Linked DNA regions of Homo sapiens: region 2 is linked to region 1. Evidence: fine-mapped QTL for protein levels in blood plasma. Region 1 holds a variant in brackets. A gene starts in the other region. All regions are shown on their reverse strands.

Region 1 (10,295 bases):
AGCTGGTGTGGGAAGGGGCTTTATACAATCTTCCCTTGATCTGTGTGATCTTGGGCAAGTGGCTTAATGTCTCCATGACTCAGTTTCCTATCTGTAAAATGCAGGTGATCATGATACCTACCCCAGGATTTTTGTGAATGTTGAATTATTGTCTAATGTCCTTCCAACAAAGCACAATAAATAATAGCTGTATTTATCATTATCATTATTATTATTTGAAACTAGGTTAGAGGACCAGGCTTCAACATAGCTGTGCTTTTAGTTTCACTGTTTGTTCATGTTATTTTTTAAAATCAGTTAAAGCCCCATGTGAGAGATCATATGCGGGGAGTGGGGAGGATTCACCAACAAAGGTTGGAGAATTAATACGGGGATGAAAAGCACCCAGGGAGAGACACAGGGCTGGTGTGTGTGTGTGTGGGGGGGGGGGTCATCCCATGACACAAGAGTCTGGAGTGCCTGGGAGGGAACGGGCCAGAGTCTAAGGCTAGGCTCTCTTCAGGGGAAAGGTTTGGAAAAGGAGCATTTCTTTTCTTTCCTTTTTCTTTTTATTATTATTTTTTTGAGACAGGTCTGTCATCCAGGCTGGAGTGCAGTGGCACGATCACAGATCACTGCATCCTCGCCCTTCTGGGCTCAAGCGATCCTCCTGCCTCAGCCTCCTGGGTACCTGGGACTACAGGTTCATGCCACCACTCCCAGCTAATACATTTTTTAATTTCTTTGTAGAAATGGGGTCTTGCTATGTTGCTAGGGCTGGTCTCAAACTCCTGGGCTCCAACTATCCTTCTACTTTGACCTCCCAAAGTGCCAATGTTACAGGAAAGGGGTCCCCACCCCATGTCCCAAGAGAGGGTTCTTGGATCTCGTGCAAGAAAGAATTCAGGGCAAGTCTGCGGTGCAGTGAAAGCAGGTTTATTAAGAAAGTAAAGGAATAAAAGAATGGCTACTCCATAGACAGAGCAGCCCTGAGAACTGCTGTTTGCCCATTTTTATGGTTATTTATTGATGATATGCTAAAAAAAAAAGGGGTGGATTATTCATGCCTCCCCTTTTTAGACCATATAGGGTAACTTCCTGATGTTGCCATGGCATCTGTAAACTGTCATGGCGCTGGTGGGAGTGTAGCAGTGAGGATGACCAGAGGTCACTCTCGTCACCATCTTGGTTTTGGTAGGATTTAGTGGCTTCTTTACTGCAAGCTGTTTCATCAGCTAGGTCTTTATGACCAGCATTTTGTGCTGACCTCCTGTCTCATCCTGTGACTTAGAATGTCTTAACTATCCGGAAATGCAGCCCAGTGGGTTTCAGCCTCATTTTACCCAGCTTCTATTCAAGATGGAGCTGCTCTGGTTCACATGCCTCTGACACTGGAATTACAGGTGTGAGTCACCTTGCTGGCCTCTTTTCCCTTTAGTAACAGCCAAGGGGCTGTTTCTGTGTCTTCACATGTGACAGATTCACGTGTGACACATCACTGGGCTCCGGGCTTGCGCCCAGCCTCGTCTTTCGGCCCAGTCACAGGAATAAGGTGCTCCGGGGGTTGTGAGCAGCCTCCTGGCACAGAGCAGGACAGGGTGTTGGGGGGCCAGGGAGGCTGGCAGTGGGGACTGGAAGGAGGGTCCCATGCTTTACCCCCCCACACACCCAGGGCTAAGAAGAGTGCTGCCCTGGAGTCCTGGGGCCTGAGAGGAGGGGGATTTAGTCATCACTGTTCACCCTCCCCCAGTATTCCAGAGGAATTGCAGCCATCTCTGTGGACAAGGCAGCTTGTTGTCTGTGAGCACTTTATGATTTTGAAATTCATCCCTGCCATAATTATAAATTAACATTTGGAGGGCTTTCTACATGCCAAGCTCTTTTCTAAGCCCTCCTGTCCGCCTTTTTTTGGAGTCAAGGTACCACTCTGTTGCCCAGGCTGGAGTGCAGTGGCTACATCTCAGCTCACTGCAGCCTCGATGTTCTGGGCTCAAGTGATCCTCCCGATTCAGCCTCCTAAGTAGCTGGGACTACAGGCATATGCCACCACGCCGGGCTAATTTTTAAATTTTCCATAGAAATGGGATCTCGCTAGGTTGCCCAGGTTAGTCTCCAGCTCCTGTCCTCAAATGATCCTCCTGCCTCGGCCTCCCAAAGTGCTGGGATTACAGGTGCGAGCTGCTGCATCCGGCCTCTTTTTAAGCTCTGTCTGCATTATCTCATTCAAATCTCACAACATTCACAACGTTCAGGGCTGAGAAAACTGAGGCTGTGAAAGGGACAATCACAAGCCCCAGGTTGCCCAGCCAGGGAAGCACTGTGAGCCGGGACGGGAACTCAGCTCAGGGGAACGTCAAAACTGTGTTCTTAACAACAGTCAGCCCAAACATTGGGTCCCTAAGCCCATGGCTTCAAGCTGGCCCTTCTCTGTGGGACAGTAGCAGCCCTCCCATCTGCTGATGTTTCTCTCTACCAGCCCCTCAGCATCTGGACAAGGCAGCTGACCCCTTCCACGTGCCCACATACCTTGGTAGCAGAGGGACCTCTCAGCATTTTTACTGGCTTTTCAGATTAAAAAAAAAGTTAGCCAGGTGTGGTGGTGGGCACCTCTATTTCCAGCTGCTTGGGAGGCTGACGCCCGAGAATTGCTTGAACTCGGGAGGCGGAGGCTGCAATGAGCCGAGATTGCGCCACTACACTTCAGCCTGGGCGACAGAGTGAGACTCCATCACAAAAAACCCCCAAAACAAAAAAAACAAAAACAAAAAAACTGGGAGAAGAAGGAAATGGGGAGGAGTTGAGCGGAGGCTCAGGAGAGTCAGGCAAATGAACCACAAGAAGCTGGGAGAGGGGCTGATCTTTCCATCTCCTGTGAAGGCAGCCGTGACATCCTCCACTGGAAGGATGAGTACCTGGGGCTGGAAGGGGTTGCACAACTTGCTCAAAGCCACCAGCCTTGTTCCTGACAACCTGACACCCTCACAGACCCACCATTGTCCCCCTGCCCAGAGTTCCAGCACTGCGTGGGGTGAGGCGGGAGGTGAGGCAGTGTTTGCAACAGCTCAAGGCCGCAGTCCAGGATGACCCTGCCTCCCCTTAAGCTGCCTGCCCGAGAGAACAAACACAAGGCTGCCGCCAGAACTGTTTGTTCCAGCCAAGCCCCGAAGATAGGGCCCCTGCTCCCACTCTCTGTAGGAAGATAGGAGCCTCACTCCCATGGCGCCGGTTAGCATTGGACCAAGCTCCTTCTCCCGGCTTTTTGTAATGTATCACTTTGTCCCATCCATCCTAATACACACACACACACACACACACACACACACACACACTCACAGGAGGACTGGTCAGGGTTCCCTGCACATGACCCTCATATTTTGTAGGGGAAACTGGGATTCATTTCGGATCATCCACTCTTTCCTCCCTCCTAAGACCATGTTCCTCATATTCCGCCACCTCAGACGAGGTGGGGCTCAGTCTTTGTTCAAGCCGTATTGCTTCAGCCTCATAACTTCAAGACCTTGAGCAAGTTACTTTACACCTCCAAGCCCTGGTTTCCTCATCTGCAAAGTGGGAATAATAAAATAATCTAGTTTGCAGAGTTGCTGAGAGATTGTTTTATTTTTGTTTAGTTTCTGTTTTGTTTTGCTTTTTTTGAGAAGGAGTCCCGCTCTGTTGCACAGGCTGGAATACAATGACGCAATCTCGGCTCACTGCAACCTCTGCCTCCCGGGTTCAAGTGATTCTCCTGCCTCAGCCTCCCGAGTAGCTGGGATTACAGGTGAGCACCACCAGGTTGGGCTAATTTTTGTATTTTAGTAGAGACGGGGTTTCACCATGTTGGCCAGGCTGAACTCCTGACCTTAGGTGATCCGCCCACCTCAGCCTCCCAAAGTGCTGGGATTACAGACGTGAGCCACCACGCCTGGCCAAGATTGTTTTACGTCAACAGCGAAACAGTATCTGGTACAGAGTAGGTGTTAAACAAATAATTGCTATTGTTATTTTGTTATTATCTGGTCCTCACCTCTATCCTCAAAAATAGCTCCAGTTGACTCAGTTATTCCTCTTTTATAAATCACTACCAAAACCAACACTTATCAAAACACCACTCTGTATCCCATAAATATATACAATTATTATATGTCAATTGAAAATAAAAGGGAAAAAAACCAATACAAACAAATAAAAAACACCCAGGTGTGTTTCAGCATCTCTCGTCTCCTTGGGGCACTAACTCCTTGCCACACTTCACCTGCATGAGAGCTGAGTAAGCTTCTGGAGCTTTGGAGAAAGTCTGGGGTCAGGAAATTGGGAGATGTTACTGGCACCTGAGAGGGGGAAGCTGTGAGTGGGGACAGGAGAGACTGCCCAGCTGCAGCTCAAGTCCAGAGTGGTTCAAAGGGCATGGCTGGGGGACAGAAAGCGTATACTCCCTTGCCTCCTGTACTAGTGCAGGAACTGTGAAATAGGCATTCAAATATGCAACTGGCAGGAATGTCATTTGTACAACCATTTCAGAACATTGGTTGGTAGGCTGGGATAGTGGCTCAGGCCTGTAATCTCAGTACTTTGGGAGGTTCAGGTGGGAGGACTGCTTGAGCCCAGGAGTTAGAGACCAGCCTGGGCAACATAGGGAGACCCCATGTCTATTATTTTTTAAAAACAAAAACAACAACAAAAAGAACATTAGTTGGCAGCATGAATTGAGAGATACTAAAATGTAGATTTTTGTTGTTGTTGTTTTGAGACAGAGTCTCACTGTGTCGCCCAGGGTGGAGTGCAGTGGCGCGATCTCGGCTCATTGCAGCCTCTGCCTCCTGGGTTTAAGTGATTCTCATGTCTCAGCTTCCCAAGTAGCTGGGATTACAGGCATTTACCATCACACCGGGCTAATTTTTGTATTATTAGTAGAGACGGGGTTTCACCATGTTGGCCATGCTGGTCTCGAACTCCTGACTTCAGGTGATCCACCCGCCTTGGCCTCCCAAAGTGCTGGGATCACAGGCGTGAGCCACCACACCCAGCCTAGATATTCTTTGATGCTAAAATTCTGTTAACAGAAATGTATCCTAGGAAGATAATAGAGTACGAGAAAAAAAAACCCCAGAGATGCAGATTGAGTTTTTTACATAAAGAGGTTCATGTTATGCTATTTAGAATAACAACAATTTGAAAGTAAATCTAATGCCCCAAATTAATGAGTAGTGGCACGACGTGTGACACCTCTGATTTAGCGAGGATTAGATTCACTCTTGAGTAATAGAGCACCCAAAATTACAGCAACATTATGAAACACAAACTTCACACACATTCCAGAGATAGGCTGTCCAAGGCTAGCGTGGTGCCTCCATAATTATCAAGGACTCAGGAGACGTCTATCCAGTTCTGCTGTCCTCAGTGAGTGGCTTTTACCCCACACTCCAATATGGCGGCTTGAGTCTTGCCATTATGTCTGCATTTGAGCTGTCATGAGGTGGAAGAAGCAAAAAAGAGTACCACTCTCCCTTTATGAAATCGCACCTAACGCTTCCACTTACTTTCCATTGGTTGGACATTAGTCACATAGGTACACCTAGCTGTAAGAGATGCCAGGAAAGACGATAAGACAATAAAGAAACACCTTTCTTTTTCTTCTTCTTTTTTTTTTTTTTT[TTG/G]AGACAGGTTCTCGCTTTGTCGTCCAGGCTGGAGTGAGATGATACAATCATGACTCACTGCAGCCTCCACCTCCTGGGCTCAAGTGATCCTGCCACCTTAGCCTCCCAAAGTGCTGGGATTACAGGCATGAGCCACCGCACCCAACCTAGACAGCTGACGCTGACCCAGAGCCCCAAGAGGTCAGGTCTCTGGCACCTTACAGCATTGGGGTTTCGGTCCATTTTTGTACCACAAATAGGTCTAAAATGATTTTGAGTGTGACTGTGTCTTTTATTTTCTGATAGACGGGGTGCTTTTAAATTTTCCCTTTTAGAGGCAGAGGTTGCAGTGAGCCGAGATCACACCGCTGCACTCCAGCCTGGGCCACAGAGTCAGACTCTGTCTCAAAAAACATACGTTAAAAAAATTAAAAAAATAAATTTTCCCTTTTAATGTTTTGCCCGTTTATTGCTGTTTCTGGGACCACAGGGCCTCAAAGCATGGATGTGAAACTAACCTGACTGGAAGCCCTCCCCACCTCCCTTGACTGCATTTTATAGATGGTAAAACAGATTCAGAGAGGCAAGAGGGCTTGGCTGCGGGGCTGCCCGAACCCAGTCGTAAAATGACTCACAGGACTATTGACACCTAGACTTTAAAACTTTCCAGCGATTTTCCTCCCATTTGAGATAAGGGGAATCATATAACAGTTCAACATTTCTCTCTCTCTCTCTCTTTTTTTGTTTTTTTCAATTAGGCTGGGAGGCTCCATGGGGGAGGTTATGGGCAAAGACGAAGATTTAAGAAAATGAAGATGGAATCTGTGTGCGCTGGGGCTGGGAAGACTGAGGGGTAGGAATCAACACACACATGCACACAGGCACACACACACCTGTATGCACATACATGAGTGCTTACCCGTGCCCTTTTGCCAGTTCCCACTCGGCTTGTTTGTATCAGACCCAAGGAGGCAGGATAGGTCAGCAGTCACATCTTCCAGATCAAGGTCTACTGTGGCATCATAAGGATTAATTTTTTTTAATTTTAATTTTTTTTTTTTGCGATGGGATCTTGCTCTGTTGCCCAGGCTGGAGTGCAGTGGCACGATCTCAGCTCACTGCAACCTCTGCCTCCCAGGTTCAAGCAATTCTCCTTACAGGCACTTGCCACCATGCCTGGCTAAGTTTTATATTTTTAGTAGAGACGGGGTTTCACCATGTTGACCAGACTGGTCTCGAACTCCTGACCTCCTGATCTGCCCATCTTGGACTCCCAAAGTGCTGGGATTACAGGCGTGAGCCACTGCGCCTGGCCGTCATAAGGATTAATTAGGATATTGCCTATAATTGCCTGGCCCAGGAGAGGTGAGATGTGCATGTCTTCCTCCCCAGTCCTCACCGTGGCTGCTTGGTCACTGGCTTGCCTGCTTGGTTTCTCTTTGAGGCTCCTCTGAGTAGGATTGGCCAGCATCCATGGGCCACTCCCTTCCTGAATGTACTGGGACCCAGTCTGCAATGAAGTCATTGTTTGAAGCATCTGCTCTTTGTTTGGTAAATCTTCCCACAGGGGGCTGGAAGCCCACAGCTCCCCTCTGCCAGGCCTCGGCTGGAGGCAGGGTCCACAGTCTTGCCTTGGCATCCTTGTGATTTATGTCCATGTGGGTCTCGCCAGGCGGAGGGATAAGGGTCATAGGATATCGGCTATTCCACAGACCAAGGCAAGTCGCTTTCTATCTGCTCAGTCGTAAGGAAGGCAAGTCATTGGGGATCTCTGCACATAGACAAGATGAGGGAATGTTTCTCCCAGAACAAAGGAAAGAAGGGGAGGCACTTGAGAGAAAATCAGAGCAATAAGATGTCAAGGAAACTGTAGACTCAGAGCCAAGAGATGCCACCAAGCGCTCCTGCCCCAGAGCTCAGCCAGGCCAGGCCACGTGGAGACGGCTCCTGCAAAGCTGCAGAGGGGCTAAGACCAGGATGTGGAAAGGGAACAGGAATTAGATGAGGTTGAAGCAGCTGGAGCTTAGCAAGTACTTAACTGAGAGCTGGATGTTTCTGCTTATTTCTACTTTTATGTTATTTATTTTTTTTAGAGTCCACGTCCTGCTGAAAGTGCTTATTTTTATAATGTGCTCTCGTAGAAGATTCTCCATAACTGGCCTTGATGGTGTGAACCATGGCTCTTCTGGGATACCCTGGGTGCTTTTAAACAACAGCTGCCAAAGAAACCCCACTCCAAACCAACCAAATCAGTCTCTGAGGACCGGGGGTGGGGTGGTGGTTCTCAAAGTTGGACCCGGGGACCAGCAGCATCAGCATCACCAGGGCACCTGTTAAAGTGCAAACTCTCAGGCCCCACCCTGACAACAGAATCCAAAGCTGTTAGGGTGGGGTCCAGAGATCTGTGTTTTAACAAGGCCTTCAGGAGCAGGGCGTCGCATACCCAGGAAAGTGTGAGAACTAGTGGGAGATTTTAACTTGTGTCCGGTGCTGAAAACCACTGGGTTTGTTTAGTATTGAGTTTGGGGACTCTTTCTTCCCTGTAGAGGGCCAGAGTTCAGAATGAGGAAAGCTGGTCTCTCTCTACTCCCTGTAGGGGAATGGGTATAATGACTTTACCATTCATTGAATCTCTTCTACATACATAAGTGAGAATAAGGAAAATCGATCGCCACAATTAATGTCCCTGACCACTGTTCTATCTCCAACACCAGTAACAGAAGAGATCCACCCCACCCCCGCGCAGGGCAGCCTTGCTAACTCTCCTGAAATGCTGAGACGTCCAGGACCCCGTCCCATAGCTGCGTCATGGCTAGCTTCTCTTAAACCAAGTTCACACCCTGCAAACACAAAGCCTTTTTCTTAGGTTTTGGCACCTCCTTCGCAACCCTGATCCTGAAGGAATTAATTTCTCATTTGGAGTAGTGGAGTTGTTGTGGGAAGTGGGTGGAGTGGGAACTTCTAGGAATCACAACTTCTTTCATGCACTTCTTTCTCTCATTTTCAACCTGATGCTCCCGTCAGCCCTTCCGACATGCTCGTCAGCCACAGTCACTCTGCTTTGTCTGGGGTCATGAGACATCCGCAGGCAGAGGGGCTACAGTATCCCTACAGGCCAGACCAACAGGAGGAGGGACTCTAGCTGAAGCTCCATGACCCTTCTGCCCTCCAGTCTGGGAGGAGGGGGCGTGTGTATGTGTGCGCGCGTGCGCGTGTGTGTGTAACAACTACAAGGTGTCCCAAATCCTGTTCTCCCATATCTGGAAAATCTGTGACCTACATAAAGCCAGTTCCTGCCTAGTGAGGAACAACAGGAAAGGATAGAAACCAAGGGCAGGTGGTCGCTTCTGGAGGCTGCTGCTGGCTTCAATGGGCATGCCTCTGTCTGGCCCATAATCTTGATTTCTGAACACATGGGTCTCAGCTCACCTGCCAGATGCGCCCCGGTTCCCACTTGGTTATTCACCATCCTCCTCTTTCCTGTCTGTCTCTTTGCCTCTATGGGTCCTTGCTGGCAACCCCACAGGGTTTCTCCTTGGCTTCTTCTAAGTCTGCTGGGCAAAGGAAGATGTCTTGGATTTATTAAATCAGCCCCATATTGGGGCCAGATGTTCCACAGCAAATGAGGTGGTCAGGACTGAAGTCAAGAAACTAAGTGAGGAAACAAGGAGGCCCCAGTGATGAACGATGGTCTCTCCTCAGCCCTTACTGAAAAATCTCCTTTCTGTCCTATTTTGCTCTCGGTATGAGCTCTGCTCTTCCTCTCCTCCCAAATCAAACATTTGGTGATGCATTTCTGCAAACTTCCACGTCTCGCTCTGGGGCCAGGAGACTGGTGTTTGCTGGGCTGTTTCTTCCAAGCCTTCTCTGCAGAAAAGGGCACGGAGGAGAAAACACGGGAGTTCTGGCAAGTGTGGGCTGAAGGCCTCACAGTAAGTCTGAGAGCGAGCGCCAACCTGGCAGGGAAGAGCTGGTGGGGACAGCTCTCGGGGACTCTGGGTGGCCAGAGGATATGGGCAGAGGCCAAGGCTTCTCACCTTCCTAATTGCAAAGGTTATATTAATAATTATAACAGTAATTAGTCATGGTGATAACAGTAACAGTAATGGATAACTGTGGGGTACTGTGCCAGGGGGAGCACACGGGTTGTATCATCTCACTTAGAGCCTTCCAACACCCACCCAGCCAGCGTCTTGGCTTTATTATTATTCTCTCCATCTTGTACCTGAAGACTGCGGCTCAGAGAGGTCTCAGCTAACCCATGATGGAATTGGGATTTGAACTCAGGCAGCCTAACTCTGAAGCCCAAGCTCTTAACTGCTATGTGATGACACAAGGAATACGTGTTTGTTAAAGAAATTGTTAACAATTCAGATAAAGAGAGGGAAAACCATAAAATACTCACCATCTACTGTCAACACTTTGGTTTCTTTCTTTTTTTTTTTTTTTTGAGACAGAACCTCGCTCTGTCACCCAGGCTGGAGTGCAGTGGCGCCATCTCGGCTCACTGCAAGCTCCGCCTCCCAGGTTCACGCCATTCTCCTGCCTCAGCCTCCTGAGTAGCTGGGACTACAGGCACCCACCACCACGCCTGGCTATTTTTTTTTTTTTTTGTATTTTTAGTAGAGACGGAGTTTCACCGTGTTAGCCAGGATGGTCTCGATCTCCTGACCTCGTGATCTG
Region 2 (10,295 bases), not on the chromosome of region 1:
AGCTGGGATTACAGGTGTGTGCCACCACGCCTGGCTAATTTTTGCATTTTTAGTAGAGATGGGTTTCACCATGTTGGCCAGGCTGGTCTCCAATTCCTGACCTCAACTGATCCACCTACCTTGGCCTCCCACAGTTCTGGGATTATAGGGGTGAGCCACTACACCCAGCCTTATTATTATTTTTTTGAGTCTGACTCTGTCACCCAGGCTGGAGTGGAGTGGCATGATCTCGGCTCACTGCAACCTTCGCCTCCCAGGTTCAAGCGATTCTCATGCCTCAGCCTCCCGAGAAGATGGGATTACAGGCATGTGCCACCACACCTGGCTAATTTTTGTATTTTCTGTAGAGACGGAGTTTCACCATGTTAGGCAGGCTAGCCTGGAACCCCTGACCTCAAGTGATCTGCCTGCCTCAGCCTCCCAAAGTGCTAGAATTATAGGCATAAACCACTGTGCCTAGCCCCTCACTTTATTTTTATAAGGACAGGGATTTCACTCCAGTGCCACTGATTCACTGTATGGCCCTGGGAGAGGCATTTTCCTTCCCTGAGCCCCAGTTTTTCCGAAAGGTAAAGCAAAAGACAGCTAATGAAAAGGAAATGGTGTTTGCAGAGTACCATCTTTGTAACAGGCACTTTATAGCAATCAGCTCATTTGATTTTCATAACCATCTGCAGAGTAGCAATGTCTCATTCTCTTTGGGGGGAGTTGAGGAAACTGAAGTTCAGAGAGATAATTATACTTGCCTAAGGTCACAGACCAAATCTGTGAGGGATTTCTAAAACCTGGGCTCTTGACCACCAGTAGAGGGACACAGACCTTTATTTCCATCGCTCCACCCTTGGCAGACATCACTAATCAATCTCTGCACTATTCTCATTTCTTTCTTTCTTTCTCTCCAGTTCATCTGAGCAAAACGATGAGAGGCGGGAATCTCCAGCTTCTGCTGACAATGACTAAAAATAACCTCTTAGGTATCCTGTTCGCTTTTGACTGTTCAAAGACCTTTTAAAATCTATTCTCATTTTATTCTCTAGCCCATGCCAGGAGACCAGCAGGAGAAGGCTCTGGAATTCAAAAGCTGCCCCATCTTGTCCATCCCCTAGACCCCAATCTCTCCCTCCCCACAAACCAACTCACCCTGTTCCCCAGCCACAAAGAGCAGCATCTGCAGCATCAAAAGGCCCAAGGCCCAGACAAACGGGGCCCCCATCCTGGATCTGGAACAAAATGGAGAGGGAGGGAGGGGTGAGCCACAGCCCAACCCTCCCAGATATTCAGCATTGCAGGACCAAACTCCCCCACTCTACAGATCAGGAAACCAGGGCTCAGAGAGACCAGTGTGTTATTCTAGGTCACAGAAGGAGCCAGCAAAGGGCTGAGCCAGAATTCGAACCCAGGGCCACTTGACCTCAGAATAGCAGTGGCTGGACGCGGTGGCTCACGCCTATAGTTCCAGCACTTTGGGAGGCTGAGGTGGGAGGACTGCTTGAGGCCAGAAGCTTGAGACCAGCCTGGGCAACATAGTGAGATCTTACCTCTATTTAAAAAATTAGCAGCCAGGCGTGGTGGCTCACGCCTGTAATCCTAGCACTTTGGGAGGCCGAGGAGGGTGGATCACGAGGTCAGGGGTTCGAGACCAGCCTTACCAACATGGTGAAACCCCGTCTCTACTAAAAATACAAAAATTAGCTGGGCGTGGTGGCAGGCGCCTGTAATCCCAGCTACTCAGGAGGCTGAGGCAGGAGAATTACTTGAACCCGGGAGGTGGAGGTTGCAGTGAGCCGAGATCACGCCACTGCACTCCAGCCTGGGCGACAGGGTGAGACTCTGTCTCAAAAAAAAAAAAAATTATCTGGGCTTGGTGGCGCACACCTGTGGTCCCAGCTATGCAGGAGGCTGAGGTGGGAGGATTGCTTGAGCCCAGGAGTTCAAGGCTGCAGTGAGCTATGATTCCACCACCACACTCCAGCCTGGGTGACAGCGCGAGACTGAAAACAAAACAAAACACAACACAACAACAAAAAACAATCCAAGCAATGAAGTCTGTGGTCAGAAGCCTGGGTGCTGGTAGTGAATCAAATCTGGAATTGGCTCACTGTTCCTTTTGTGTGATCTTGGGCAAGTTGCTTACCTTCTCTGTGCCTTACTTTCTTTGTGGGTCAGATGGGGATAACATCAGGTAGTTGAAAGGAATGGATGAGTCAATACATATAAAATGCTTAGAACTGTCTCATGCAGTAAGGGGTACATTTTAGCTGCTGCTATTATTATTACCGACCTTAACACAGCCAAGACTGAAATACCATTTTTCAAGTCAGCCTCCTCCATCAGACTGGCGGCTCCTAGAGGGCAGCAGTCTGTCCCAGTCCTCCCAGCATCCTCAGTCCAGGCAGCAGGCTGGCCTCTAAGCCATCCTTTAATCTGGGTTTGCTGGCTGACACGATTCGCAGCTTCAATTCCAGGATTTGGTTGTCACCAAGATTCTATTCTTGGTTTCTGGGATTTTGGAGGAGCCGCCAACTCCCAGCTGGAGGAAGGGGCTCACCCCTGCCCACCCATCCTCCTCCTGACTTCACACAGCTCAACAAAGATACTTCTTAGGCCCACAGAGAAACTTCAGTTGTGGGTCCATTTCCCTATAGGGGCTAGGACCCATAGGGATAAAGTGGACAATTATTAAGCGCCTACTGTGAGCAAAGCCCATGCCAGTCGTTGGGACACAGCAGTGCATTTCCTGACTTCACATTGTTCCAGAGACTAGGAATCCTGGGGAGGTGGTCCCTCCCCAAAACCTCCCACTCCTGCGAACCCCGGTCACCAGGGCTCAGGAGGTGGGCGCAGATGGAAAATTAGAACATCATCTGCAAACCCAATCCTTGCTCCCCGCCCCCATAAGAAATTATCCCTGAGGAAGGGGTGTGAACGGAGTCCAGAAGGGGAGGCTGTATGTGACAGCTGTCCCTTTCCCCAGTTCTCCTTCCCAGCTCCCAGAGTCCCCTGCTGGGAGGCCGGCCTGGGACCTGTCCGTGGTGCTGAACTCTGAGGCGGCAACGCAGCGGCAAAGCCCACCTAGTCCACCCCTGCCTCCTGCCTGCTAACACGATGCCTCAGGGACCAGAGAGGGCTAGAGGTTTGCCTCAGGCTGCACAGCAGGGTAGAGGTCAAAGCCAGACCCTGGACCAGTGCTCCCAACTACCAACTTGTAAACCTCAGCAACCTCTGCCTTCACCAGGCTGTTCTCATTTCTTCCCCTTGGAACCCTGAGCAAGTGTGGGGTCCCCTCATGGCTGTTCCAGGCCTGGCCAGGTATTAGAGAGAGACAGGACTCCGGGTTGCACCTGCCCCCAGCAGGGCCTTACGAGAGGACAAGGCCAGAGAATTCTCTTTCTCTCTCTCTCTCACACACACACACACACACACACACACACACACACACCCCGTTAACAGGTCAGACTACATCCAGATAGCTCTGCTTCTAATCCGGGACAAGCTGCTTCAATCTCTCTGTGCCTCAGTTTCCCCACCTGTAAAATGGAGATTATCCAGCAAGTACCACCTGCAGCTACTGTGAGGATGAAATGACCTAAGACTTGCAAAGTCCTAGAAATGTTAAATTTAAAAACAGCTCTTTAGACACAAAGCCTCATGTATACGCTAAAAATATACTGAGGTTGCCCAACATGGTGACAGACACAGTTTCAGGTGCACACCCCCCACACACACCCTCCCACTCCCTTCCACTCGCACCCTCACACACCCACACCCTTCTCTTAAAATACCTCCTCCCCAGGGCGGCCAGAGATGAGCATTTACACAGCTGTCTGGGGCCCGTGCCCTCATGAATAATGTACAAGCCTCATGCATATGCAAGCAGGGGCCTGCGGGGTGCTGGAGGAGGGGCAGCTCGGATCCATGTGAATGTGTGTGTGTGAGAGAGTGTGTGTGAGTGTGTGTGTGTAAGTGTGTGTGTGTCCCCTCCTTCACTTCACCCCCACCTCAAGTCTCCGTTAGCACTGAGTGAAGGTGAGTTTGCCAATGGGCATTTGTGAGTGTTTGTGACTGGGTGTGTGTCCGGGGTGTTGTGTCCTGGCAAGGGTGTGAAGGCGGTTGTGCCATGTGGTGGGTGCATGTTGTGTGTGTGAGCCTGCAGCAGCTCCGTGCACCGGGTGGAGCACATGGGACCTAGTGTGATCTGTGGATGTGTGTGAGTCTGAGTGACCCTCAGCAGGGGGCTGTGCGCACATGTGTGTGTTTCTGACCTGAGAGTCAGGGTGTATTAGTGTGCATGGGTGTGAATGTGGAACTCCGTGGAGGAGAAAGGGAGATGGGCTCAGTCATCATCCCGGGCTTCCCCTTGGGGATTTCAACCCCTGCTCAAGCTTTCCCTGTTAGCGCCCCAACTCTGAACACAGACCACGTCCCACACCCCCGTGCCAAGGGTGCACACTGCCAACCGCATGGAAAGAACCCTTGGCCCCTCCAGATACACAAGCGGGACACACACAGCCACGCACCCCAGACACAGACCCTGGGGAAACACACACTCACACAGATTCACAGTGACATTAACAAAGAGAGACAATATGGGCACTTACAAGACAGGCGGCGTGTCTTCTGCACAAAGACACACACCCACAGTCTCGGGCCCCCCCCCCCCCACATAAACCCCTTGATGAACGGAACAGCATCAGACATAGCTCCTCACTCACACGGCGATGCCAGCCCCTGGCACAAACCGAGATGGATAATTGTGGCCTTGGTGACCGATGGACACCCATCATTTTGCCACATGGTGATGTGGCCCTCGGCACAAGTTTTCTGACAAAGACACAACCACAGTCACATCAGACTCACAGGGGACCCTAGAACCCCTGGGCATACTCCCCCTCCCTGCCTGTCTGGGGTGGACACACACACAAAACCCCCATATCCTTGAGGGGGAACTTGATTTCAGAATGTCCATCAGCTATTGCGACGGCTGGGTTCTGGGGTCCCACAGTGCACCCACCCCTTCCTGCCTGCCCTGCCCCCACGTCCCCCGCTGGGGCCCAGAGCCAACCCTCTCCCTGGCCTGGCTGTTTCTCATTGATGCTGCCTGAGAGGAACAAAGCCCCACGCGTAGGGATGGGGGTCTCTCCTGCCCAGACAGGGCCCTTACTTCCCAGCCCCTTACTTCCCAGCCCCTGTGCCCCCAAACCAAGCCAGCGCTTCCACATGTGTCCATATGGACAGGTGGAACTAAAGGGGGTGGGGGTAGGGGTCTGTGTCATGCTGTAAGGACGTGGGAGGCTGTGAAGGTGCTGGGGGACAGCCCCCCCTCTGAGCTGGTATCCCTCACAGGTCCTGGGGATCCATAGCTGGGGGGTCTAGGGGACCCCCACCCAACATTCACCTGGGACACCCAGTGTGTTCCCTGGGATAAGGGACAACACCTCAACCCAAGGTCTAAGGGAATAACGGGGAACCACGTTGGGATGGGGACCCCCAGGACCTCCTCCCTGAGTCAGAACGTGGTGACCGGACCTGACCCAAAAGGACAGGGAGATGGCAGGGAGCCCCTTCCCCATGGCCGTTCGCTCTCAGCGCAGATACCCTTCCATTGGGCACAGGGTGATCTGGGGGCCCCCTCCCCACTGCAGTCCGGCCCGGAATCCTCCATTCAACCGCAAATTGGGAATCCCTACTTAAAATCCTGGGGTGTCTCGGCTGAGATACGGGGGTGCCCTGTTCCAGAGTCCCCCATTCGGCATCTGGGTGTCCTCTTCTTCCCTCCAAACTCGGGGGGCCCCTCCCCTAGCCCTGTTTCCCATTGCTCCCTCCTCAACCCTGAGACCCACCCCCAGCCCGGCCCCCTCCCCACCGGGGGGTAGTCTCCGGATTCCGCGGACAACCTTCCTCCCCAAATGTCTGTTCACCTAGCATTCCCAAGCCCCCTCCCAGTTCGCGCTCCCTCCTCAACCTAGGGCTCCCCTCCCCCGCTTCAGCCCCCTCCCCATTCTGGGGACTTCTCCCTGGTCTCAGGTCCTCTCCCTAATCCTGAGCTCTGTCTCTAATCCCGAAGTCTTCTCCCGCAACACGGCCCCCTCACGGATCCCCCACCTGGCTCCTAGCTCGGACGCATCCCGGGGCGGCCGCCGGGCACAAAGGACGCTGCGCTCCGACTCAGCCAGCTCCGCGCCGGGTCCAGCCCCTGCGCCCTGCGCTCCGCTGGCCCCAGCGCCGCCTCAGTGCTTATAAAGGGGCCGCGAGGGCTCTCTGCGCATGCGCCCCCGCCAGCCCGAGGCCTCTGGCTGCGCGAGGGAGGGGGCTCCCCTGCCTAAAATCCCCACCCCGCCCATTTTTTGGACACTCACCGCACCCAGGAGAAGATGGCATCGATTCTCCTCCCATTCTCTTTGCCCCAGGAACCGCGTTAAACGTCCCCATTATGCCCCAGGATGAGGCCGTCCCATTTTACAGGTGGGGAAACTGAGCCCCAAGGAGGCAAAGTCGCTTCCCAAGGTCACGCACAGAGGCAGAGCTGGGATTCGAACCTCGCCCTGCCTGATTCTCCAGGACTCACGTTCAAAGCAGTTTTGGCTACAATTACTGGTTTACCCCATTTACAGAGAGGAAACTGAGGCACGGACGAGACGGGGAGACTCCTTGTTCACACAGCTGGTAAGAGGCACGCAGGGTGGGAGTCCAGGTGTGTGACACCCCCGAGCTGTTTCCAGCAACTACAGCCAGATTGTATCATTCATTCATTCACCTTTGTCTGATCAGCATTTATGTAGCACACTCTATGGACTGGGTACTGCTGTTGACACATGAATAATTTTGCTTTATGCAGAGGCATAGGCATGTCCCTGCCATGAGACATGAGACCCCAATCTTTTTTTTTTTTTTTCAGACGGAGTCTTGCTCCGTCATCCAGGCTGGAGTACAGTGGCACGATGTTGGCTCACTGCAACCTCCACCTCCCAGGTTCAAGCGATTCTCCTGCCTCAGCCTCCTGAATAGCTGGGATTACAGGCACCTGCCACCACACCCAGTTAATTTTTGTATTTTTAGTAGAGATGTGGTTTCACCATGTCAGCTAGGCTGGTCTCGATCTCCTGGCCTCAAATGATCCGCCCGCCTCAGCATCCCAAAATGCTGGGATTACAGGCATGAGCCACCGCGCATGGCCTTGAATTACACATTTTAAGATGGTGAGTTTTATGTTATCTGTATTTGACCACCATTAAAAATATGGTAATGAGGGCTGGGTTCGGTGGCTCACACCTGTAATCCCAGCACTTTGGGAGGCCAAGGCGGGTGGATCACCTGAGGTCAGGAGTTTAAGACCAGCCTGGCCAACATGGTGAAACCCTTTCCCTATTAAAAATACAAAAATTAGCCAGGCGTGTTGGCAGACACCTGTAATCCCAGCTGCTCAGGAGGCTGAGGCAGGAGAATCGCTTGAACCCAGGAGGCAGAGGTTGCAGTGAGCTGAGACCATGCCATTGCACTCCAGCCTGAGTGACAGAGTGAGACTCCGTCTCAAAAAAAAAAAAAAAAAAAAAAAAGCCATGAGGAGGGAAATGTGCCCAGAGAGGGCAGGCTTTGCCCCTGCCTTCCTTCCTATGGTCGTGGTGTTTCTGTGCTGAGAATGGGCTCGCAGCGCTCCACCCTGGGTCCTATATCTGTGAGTGTGTGTTTAGCATCTCTGAGGGTGCGTGTCCATCTGGTAGGAGGATAGGCAAATGAGGGACAAGATAGCTTCCACAAGGTTATCAAAGAAAGGAGGCCTTGGCCAGGTGCCGTGGCTCACGCCCATAATCCCAGCGCTTTGGGAGGCCAAGAGGACAGATCATTTGAGGTCAGGAGTTCGAGACCAGCCTAGCCAACATGGTGAAACCCCATCTCTAATAAATCAAAATTAGGGTGTGGTGGCGGACGCCTGTAATCCCAGCTACTCGGGAGGCTGAGGCAGGAGAATCGCTTGAACCCTGGAGGCGCAAGTTGCAGTGAGCCGAAATTGGGCCACTGCATTCCAGCCTGGGCAACAGAGTGAGACTCCATCAAAAAAAGAAAAAAGAAGAAGAAAGGAGGCCAAGCACCGTGGCTCATGCCTGTAATCCCAACACTTTGGGAGGCTGAAGCAGGCAGATCACCTAAGGTCAGGAGTTTGAGACCAGCCCAGCCCAGCCAACATGGTGAAACCCTGTCTGTACTAAAAATACAAAAATTAGCCAGGCATGGTGGTGTTCACCTATAATCCCAGATACTCAGGAGGCTGAGGCAGGAGAATCACTTGAACCTGGGAGGCGGAGCGTGCAGTGAACCGAGACTGTGCCACTGCACTCCAGCCTGGGTGTCAGAGCAAGATTCCATCTCAAAAAAAAAAAAAAAGATTATCAAAGAAAGGGTAGGAATGAATGAGGGATAAGGGGGGACCCCAGGTGAGCAAGGGGTAGCCCTGGGGTCCAAGATGATACAGCGGGAAGCTGCACTGACTGTTTGACTCTGTGTCACAGAGGAGAGATGGAGGTCAAGGATCCCAGCTGATGTGAGTGTCTGCAGGTGACAGCTGTGTCAGCAGCACCCAAACAGCATGCAATGACTAGTCGGTGAGGCTGGAGCGTGCTGGGGGGTTGGCTGTGGCTCACACTGGGAAAGACGCTGAGAACAGCTGCGTGACGTGCGTGAGAACCGAGTAGCTCAGCCTCCACAAGTCTGGGGTTCAAACCCCCTCCCTGCCATTCGTAACAATGTGACTCTGAGTGAGCCATCTCATCTTTCTGTGTCTCAGTTTCCCCATCTGAAATGGGGATAGTCCAGGTGCCGGTGGCTCATGCCTGTAATCCCAGCACTTTGGGAGTCAGAGGCAGGAGGATCACTTGAGCCCAGGAGTTCAAGACCAGCCTGAGCAACACAGTGAGACCCCCATCTCTACAAAAAATAACTTAAAAGTTAGCAGGACATGGTGGCACACATCTGTGGTCCCGGCTACTCGGGAGGCTGAGGGGGAAGGATCGCTGGAGCCCAGGAGATTAAAGCTGCAGTGAGTCAAGATTGCATCACTGTACTCTGGTCTGGGTGACACAGTGAGACCCTATTTCAAAAATGAATAAAATAAAATGGGGGGAGGGTGGGCGCGGTGGCTCAAGGCTGTAATCTCAGCACTTTGGGAGGCCAAGGCAGATGGATCATGAGGTCAGAATTTGAGACCAGCCTGGCCAACATGGTGAAATCCCGTCTCTACTAAAATTCAAAATTAGCTGGGTGGGGTGGTGCACACCTGTAATCCCAGCTACTCAGGAGGCTGAGGTAGGACAATCGCTTGAACCCAGGAGGTGGAGGTTGCAGTGAGCCAAGATGGCACCACTGCATTCCAGCCTGGGTGACTGAGTGAGATTCCATCTTGGGAAAAAATTAAATAAATAAATAAATAAAATGGGGGATAATGAATGTCCCTACGTTACCGGTTGCTTGGAGAATGAAATGGGAAGTAAACACACAGGCAGGGACTGCTGTTTATTTTACAGGTGCTGGGGAAACTGAGGCTTAAGGAGCTAGGATCACCTGCCCGAGGATGTACAGAGTGAGTAGAGACCAGGTGGAAGCCAAGGTCTGTGGGCGCAGAGCTGAGCCCCAACCCCACCTATCCTCATCCTTCTGCTTCCCCCGCTTCTCCACTCCTCCCCACCCCTTGCCCCCACCCCCCGGCTCCTCGCTGGTGCCAGGGCTGAGCTTAGAGGGGCTGGCCTGGGGCCCAGGGGCGGGCTGTTGCCGGGGGCTTGAATGAGGCAACCTTGCCTGGGAATCTACTGGGCTCAAAGAGCTATTTATAGGCCTGAGCTGGGATTGGGCACCCCTCCCCAGCCCTGAGTGCCTTCTCTGTCCCCACCACCCCACTGGGGCCCTGGGCCAGGGGCTGCTGCCAGTGGGGGAGGGGTGGGGGATGGTACTGGCAGACCAGAGCAGAGGTGGGGAGGGAGGCTGGACCCTCCAAGAGAGCTGGGTCTCAGGGGTGGACAGTGCCTCCAAAGTGCCTCTGAACATGCCCAAGGTGACACATGGGTAAGTCACACACAATGCCACCAACAACCACTGACACACACAGTCACACCCCAGCCACACCCCAGCCACACTAACAGCACAGGTGGCTCACATGCAACCTCACCTGGCCACACACAGGTCTCACCCACCACACATGACCAAACCTGACCATACACAATGACACCCAGCCATACACAATCATACCTGGTCATGTACAACCACACCCAGCCATACACACCACACCCAGCCATACACAACCACACCCA

Direction of the effects. Positions count from the first base shown, and alleles are read on the strand shown. Strength reflects both the effect of a copy and how common the allele is.
For the plasma level of the protein whose gene starts at base 6,209 in region 2, allele TTG in region 1 goes with a lower level than allele G (weak association).

The links. PIP is the chance, under the fine-mapping model, that this variant and not a neighbour inherited with it causes the effect. The UK Biobank Pharma Proteomics Project read protein levels with antibody pairs (Olink). The fine-mapping took linkage between variants from a reference panel, not from the people measured, so its PIPs are less certain.
Region 2: NCAN starts here. The variant in region 1 is fine-mapped to the plasma level of the NCAN protein (UK Biobank, PIP above 0.99).

What each region holds. Positions count from the first base shown.
Region 1 is chr10:72,023,720-72,034,014 of GRCh38, reverse strand. It overlaps LOC124902448 (a long non-coding RNA gene), which reads right to left and starts at 6,704. Exons shown (of 2, transcript XR_007062187.1): 1 at 6,532-6,704; 2 at 5,096-5,555. The variant TTG/G (reference allele first, on the strand shown) is at 5,632.
Region 2 is chr19:19,207,872-19,218,166 of GRCh38, reverse strand. It overlaps NCAN (neurocan), which reads right to left and starts at 6,209. Exons shown (of 15, transcript NM_004386.3): 1 at 6,103-6,209; 2 at 1,141-1,220. The coding sequence starts at 1,213. RefSeq lists enhancers at 3,559-4,059, 4,060-4,560, 6,113-6,407.